Linked DNA regions of Homo sapiens: region 1 is reported to be linked to region 2. Evidence: microRNA targets listed by miRTarBase, many of them from high-throughput screens and not tested one by one. Region 2 holds a microRNA gene; the other region holds the end of a gene's coding sequence.

The links. Region 2 holds the annotated microRNA hsa-miR-3670 (AGAGCUCACAGCUGUCCUUCUCUA, at 2,217-2,240, opposite strand). A microRNA usually pairs through its seed, bases 2 to 8, with sites in the 3' UTR of a target mRNA and lowers its output. Matches are read on the target gene's strand: a 7mer-m8 pairs with bases 2 to 8, a 7mer-A1 pairs with bases 2 to 7 and ends in A, and an 8mer does both.
Region 1: the mRNA of TXNIP is a reported target of hsa-miR-3670. Seed matches in the 3' UTR shown: 7mer-m8 at 1,570-1,576.

The regions. Positions count from the first base shown.
Region 1 is chr1:145,991,053-145,994,456 of GRCh38, forward strand. TXNIP (thioredoxin interacting protein) reads right to left here. Exons shown (of 8, transcript NM_006472.6): 6 at 3,229-3,385; 7 at 2,964-3,115; 8 at 1,383-2,834. The coding sequence ends at 2,799. Among named protein-coding and RNA genes, the nearest start is that of TXNIP, 3.8 kb to the right of the region's middle. RefSeq lists an enhancer at 1,656-1,735.
Region 2 is chr16:16,305,245-16,308,648 of GRCh38, reverse strand. MIR3670-2 (microRNA 3670-2) reads right to left here and starts at 2,279; the gene lies at 2,215-2,279. All of the region lies in intron 1 of LOC105371099 (a long non-coding RNA gene), which reads left to right.

The DNA of each region.
Region 1 (3,404 bases), not on the chromosome of region 2:
TCCCAAATAAGGACCAGGACCAGATCTGTGCAAATATTTAAATTGGCCATCCCAGGGTTTCTCCACCTGTCGGTTCTTTAGGAATGAAAATCACTGCTGGGCGCCATGGCTCACACCTGTAATCCCAGCACTTTAGGAGGCTGAGGCGGGTGAATCACGGGAAGTCAGGAGTTCGAGACCAGCCTGGCCAACATGGTGAAACCCCGTCTCTACTAAAAATACAAAAATTAGCTGAGTGTGGTGGCTCATGCCTGTAATCCCAACTACTCAAGAGTCTGAGGTAGCAGAATCGCTTGAACCTGGGAGGCGGACATTGTATTAAGCCAAGATTGGGCCACTGCACTCTAGCCTGGGAGACAGAGCAAGACTCTATCTCAAAAAAAAGAAAGAAAGAAAGAAAGAAAGAAAATCACACCAATTAAACATGGGATTGTGGTATTACTCTACTACTATTACCCTACAAGGAATAGGAACCATCAAATCATCTAAGGGATGAGGGTGAAGTTGAATAGTTAGCAAACATTTACTGAGTTATGTGCTTGGTTAGGAACTGTGAAAATAAAAAATGGTTAGCTGCCTCCAAAGAATTTAATACTCATAACTCTATAACCTCTTAAGTCCTGAAGTTATCCTTGTTAGTATATAAATCAAGTTTACATTGGGAAGAAACCCTATGATAAAACCATATTGTAAAAAGGGGATCTTCAGCTGAGTGTGGTGTCTCACGCCTGTATTCCCAACTCTTTGGGAGGCCAGGGCCAGCAGATCACTTGAGCCCAGAAGTTTGAGGCCAACCTGGACAACATGGCAAAACCCGAACTCTACAAATAATCAAAAAATTAGCTGAGCGTAGAAAAAACAAACACATACACACACACACACGCACACACAATTAACTGAACGTAGTTGTGTATGCCTGTAGCCCAGCTATGTGGGAGGCGGAGATGGGAAGATCACTTGAGCCCAGGAAATCAAGGCTGCAGTGAGCTAAGATCATACTACACTCCAGCCTGGGTGAGTGAGACTGTCTCAAAAAAAGGAACCGCCACTCTTTTCTTTCAAATGCCCTCATAAACATCATCTCCCTGTATTTCAAGAACCCATGAACTCCAAAACTGAAGGAATTTAGTAATGATTACCTATGGATTTGGAAAACTAGTTTAGACAACCGGAAAATCCCAGTATAGTTGTTCAGTGAATCTGAAACATGCCTCAAACGGTTTCCCTCTTCACCTTCTAGCCCCCACTCTGCCGACATTCCTTAGGGTCCATAGGGAGTGTTTTCTCCACAAGGTTTTCATTAGTGTGGATTGTTAAGTAGAGGAAAACTCCTTTAGACACACCTTCTTTCCAAAAACTTTTCCAAAGCCATCTCACAGACATTTTTTTTTCCATTAAAAAAACTTTATTTTCATTTTTTACAAAGAATATCCCCATCTGGGGTAAAAATATATCTGGTTAAGTACAAAATATAGTCTTTACCATACAAAAAGATACATAATACAAAAACATGAAACCAACCATCTTCAGCCCACACTTTCTGGCTGTAATAACTCTCAGAAAAGGGTGGAGCTCAGTGCTCTGACACAGGACAGTGAACAAAGTGCTATGGCTGAGAGTGACTGACCAAGTGCTGGCAGCTGCAGTGAGGGGCCAATATCCCTATCTCCTAACACAGGGCAGGAAGGGGGTTCAAAGGGCTTTTATGAAGACCTGCCCTCTAGTTTCTCATGGCAGTATTTGGAGGTTCTGATCACAGGGTTGGGCATCTTGATCAAGAGTTCCTCCTTGGGTTTGAAGTCACAGTGGGCAAGGCTGACAGCAGCAACCCTTTCACATGATTTAAGCGTTAGAATTATATAATTCTGTACATTGGGGCAATCTCAAAAGTAGTAAAATTTTTTTTGTCTTTTGGCTTAACCCTAGAGACACAGTAGACCAGTTTCAGCTTACATTTAAGATGGCAGAAGGGGAGAACAAAAAATTTGACAGGAATTAAAGTGCTAAGAACATCACCTTAGAATCAATTCCAAGGACTTACATGAAGAGAAAACCATCCTCCCATATGAAAATATTTGCAGTAGGAGAACACAGTGCAATAGGCTCCAAAAATGGCTTTTAAGACCTTTGGTGGGGCAGTTACTACTGCTTTAAAAGCCAGGTTAAAGTATACTCTAAGCAAAGATGACCGTAGAGCAGCTAGCTTCCTTTTTTATAATCACAGGGAAAGCTCTCTCCATTGTCCATCAAATCAGCTCTAGAAGGTTTTTCTTTTTTTTCTACAAGTGCACAAAGGGGAAACACTGATTTTAAGAACCTCCTTTTCCCAAAGTTTTGGCCACAATTTCCCTTTTCATCTTCCTAGTTTGTTAAATTGGCTCTTCTCCACATGATACGTAAGTTCAAGGTCCAAAGTTCCTATCACAATTTACAAAAAGCCTCCAAAAAACCTTGAAAAGCTTACGCCAGGAGGCCATTTTTACCTGACCCGAAACTATCGAAAAGGCCTCAATTTTCAAGGAGATCTGAGAAAATGGATGGGCCTGAGTTTTTCTAGTTATTTTTAAACCCATCCAACAAACACCCCTGTATCACAACATGGGCGCTGGCTGAGGATGAGTCCGCATCCTTTAAGGCCCAGGAGATTGCCTGCTGACCACCTCCTACATTAGGAAGTCAGAGGCTAAGGTGGACCCACACTCCATTGCAGAGACTGTTGAGTCTCTGAAAAAGTGAGTGTCCAGGAAGAGAGACAAAAAGAAACAAGTAGGTAAAGCTGCTTCTTTTCTTCCACATGCTCACTGCACATTGTTGTTGAGGATGCAGGGATCCACCTAAAGAAAGAAACAGACTATTTCAGTTCAGGTAAGAACAAAAAGAACAAACCAGTTTAGCAATCCGTCTAAGTCAACTTCTTATAGAAAGCTTAGGACAAATTTAACAGTAAAGATGACAATCCTCACCTCAGTATAAGTCGGTGGTGGCATGAACTTGAACTCAGGGGCATACATAAAGATAGGGCTGTCTTGAGAGCCATCCATGTCATCTAGCAGAGGAGTGGTTGGGCTCTCCAATCGGTGATCTTCAGGAATGACATCCATATAGCAGGGAGGAGCTAGAAAAGAAAATATGGCCACATAAGAATCCTGCCCAAGAAATGCTGGACCATCACAATTTTACAAACCCAGGTAGACCAGAAACAAAGAAAAGACATTAGGTCTGGCTCACCTTCTGGGGTATCAGGGATGTTCAGATCTACCCAACTCATCTCAGAGCTGGTTCGGCTGGCCATGCTGGATGTTCTGCTGCTTAGACCTGATCTGCTGCCAATTACCAGGGGCAGGTCAAGGATGACCTTCTTGGATCCAGGAACGCTAACATAGATCTAGAAAGGAAGATGGCAG
Region 2 (3,404 bases):
GCCTGAGCAGAAATCCAGATGATTATGAAAAATGCAGACCTACCCATCCTTATTCACCTGGGACCACCGTGAACTATATCATAAGAAATAAACCCCTATTGTACATACATGCACCATTCGAGTTGGGTCTATTTGTTACAGCAGTTTAGCCAACCCTAATCCACATATACAGTGTCAACAGTGGCTGAGATGACATGTTGCACAGACATGAGAGTCAGAAAGACCTGAGTTCAAGTCCCAGTGATGACATTTACTATCTGTGTGACCTTGAAAAGCTGCCTAACTACTCTCAGACCGTTTCCTCATCAGTTTGTTTTGAGAGTCAAATGAGAAAATTACTAAAAAGCCCTTAGCACTGCATCTAAGATGGGGAAGAGACAGTCAATGAATTCAAGTTTCCTGAAGCCCAGTTGCATCCCTGCCCTGCCCTGGGCTCTGAGAGACAGTTGCCGAAGCTAGTGTTAAAGTGAACTAAATATGGCCTGAGTGGGACTTCGTACTTCTATAGTTGAGTCCTTGTGGACAAATTGCAACCTAGCTTAATAGGTAGACAAGATTGAAAACCTAACTTAGGAGTATGCGCCTGTAACAATAGCTGAGTCTTGGCCAATCCCAGAGGCCGTAGTTCAACCGCTCATACGCTGCTGAGTGTTCAAACTGTACTCAAATAAGGCAAACGCCAACTTGTAACAATCCAGCCATTCTGTACTTCACTTCTGATTTCTGTACATCATTTCCCTTCTTTTGTCCATAAATCTTCTTCCACCACGTGGCTGCGCTGGAGTCTCTATGAATCTGCTGTGATTCTGGGGTCTGCCCAATTCGCGAATCATTCATTGCTCAATTAAACTACTTTAAATTTAATTCAGCTGAGATTTTCTTTTATCACTAATTTGAGCTGGTTTTCTAATGTTTGCAAATGGGAGGGCTGACTAATATAACACTGCTCCAAATATTAACGTCTTTCTCCCAACCCATCACCCAGGCAGAAGTGGTCCAGCCTGGGCAACCCTAGGAGGAGGCTAGCTCTCCTCTAGGAAGGCTTAGGATGCAGCCAGTGGGCAGTAACTGGCTCACTGTCCCCTGCAACTGAAATCAGAACTGGTTCCAGAAACCAAGTTGACCCCCAACCAGTCTTTCCCAAAATATGGCTCTATGCCCATCTCTGGTCAGGCTGGGCTGTTTTCCTGGACAGAGAAGTCTCAGACAAGCAGGCAGTGGTTAGTGGGCTGTGCCCAGGCTGAGAACATTTCCCAGAGAAGATGGCATCTCTGGCAGTCCCTTAAAGCCAGCAGAGGCCAAGTCATGTCCAAGAGGCCAAAAGGCCCAATATGGTGGAGACAGTATACAGTCCCCATGAATAAGGGATGCTGATGCCTTCCCTATGTACCAGGTAGTCACTGCCTGAGGGGCCCAGAGCAGCAGGAGGGCAGAGCCAGCCTGGGCAGGGGCACTGGGCCGGAAGTGGGGCTCACATCCTCAGCACACACACACACACACACACACACACACACACACACACACACACACAAGCGAATGCACACACACACACACAAATGCACGCACACACAGATAGGTGCATTCAAACATCACATACACGTGTACATTCCTTGCAAAATCAACTTCTGCTGATAGCACAACAAACAATGGGGCCACAGTGTGGCATGGAGGAAACCCTGGAGTCTGATCTCATTTTTTTTTTTTTGCATCTGTCAGGGGATAAAGATATTTGATAAAAATCCTTGAGTCACATCCCCACCAGGTCCCTGCCTACCTGTAGACCCCATCAAGCCAGCTCCATGGCCCTTCAGATACCGCCTCACTGGGTCCCCAGGGATTGACCTCAGTCCTGGAAATGCAGAAATATCTGTATCTGTCACAGCTGAGACTGGCGGCCTTCCGCCGGCTTTCCTGGAGGCAGAGCTGGAGACAGGGACTTGGGTGGATGTGGTTTTTGTTTTTGTTTTGAAAGGGGCTTTCAGGAGAAGGGAGGTGAGGACTACAGGATGCAGAAGGGGACAGAGCAGAGTGAGAATGTGGTCCCTTAAAGTCCCGCCTTGACCTATCCCACGAGCAGCAGAGAGCACGCCACAGGATCGTCCCCACCGTGGGGCAGGGACCAGCCATTCACGTTGCTGTATCAGTTAGTCACTGGGCCATTACTGGGCATGGCATCCCATCCCAGGCAATGTGGCTCCCATCTGAGGGTGATTCTCTAGAGAAGGACAGCTGTGAGCTCTCAGCAGGTGAGGCTCCAAAAGCAGCTATACCAGTCTAGACCTCAGGGGAAGGGGGAATTCATCTCTAGGCAGGGATGATTTTCATAACATTGAACTCTTGACATGCAGGAGCACCGACCAATCAGAACAGACACGGTGACCAAACAGGCACAGCCACACCAGTGGATACCAGCGGAATGTCCACGCTGCCTCTGCGAAGGGACAGTCCCATGAGCCAAGCCCTAGACCAGCTGTTCTGGGAGCACTGCATCATTGCACTGAATTCTCACAACCGCCCCATAATGCTGGGACCATCCCCATTTTCTTGCCCAACAGCCTCCGTCTCATAGACACTAGGCGGCTCTCCCAGGGTCACACGGTCCAGTCAATAACGGGCAGAACTCGCACTCCGATCTGTCTGGCTCCAAAGCTGCTAAAAATTTTCTACTTGGCCTCACTGGCTTGACAAAGATAAAAAAGAAGGCAAGTCCTTCTTTCCAAGAGATGCTGAGGTCCCTCGGTGACACTAGGTCATGATTTTATCATGTTCAGAGGGCAATGAAAGGGACAGAAAACAAGCGATGTGTGATCTCCTGTCATGTCAAGAGACGCTGTTTTCAAAGAAACGTACGTTTCGCAGAATCAATACGCTGTGGGGCCTCAGAAAGCAGAGGCAGACACACGGCCCCAACCCGTGCACGTGGGAGCCCTGTTACAAGAGACGGCAGAAATTAAACTGAATCACCTGGAGCAAGTACATTGTAAATGTTCAATATTAATGACCCACCTCGGCCCCAAAGAAGAGAGCGTTGGGCTTTGTCCAGCTGTGTGCTCTGTTGTTAAAAGACCACCTTGTGGCCAGGCACGGTGGCTCACACCTGTAATCCCAGCGCTTTGGGAGGCCAAAGCAGGTGGATCACCTGCGGTCAGGAGTTCGAGACCAGCCTGGTCAACATAGTGAAACCCCGTCGCTACTAAAAATACAAAAATTTGCTGGATGTGGTGGCTGGCGCCTGTAATCCTAGCTACTCGGGAGGTTGAGGCAGGAGAATCGCTTGAACCTGGGAGGCGGAGGTTGCAGTGAGCCAAGATCACGCCATTGCACTCCAGCCTGGGCGACAAGACTGAAACTCCGTCTCAAAAACAAACAAACAAACAAACAACAACAGAAAACAATTTGTGCCT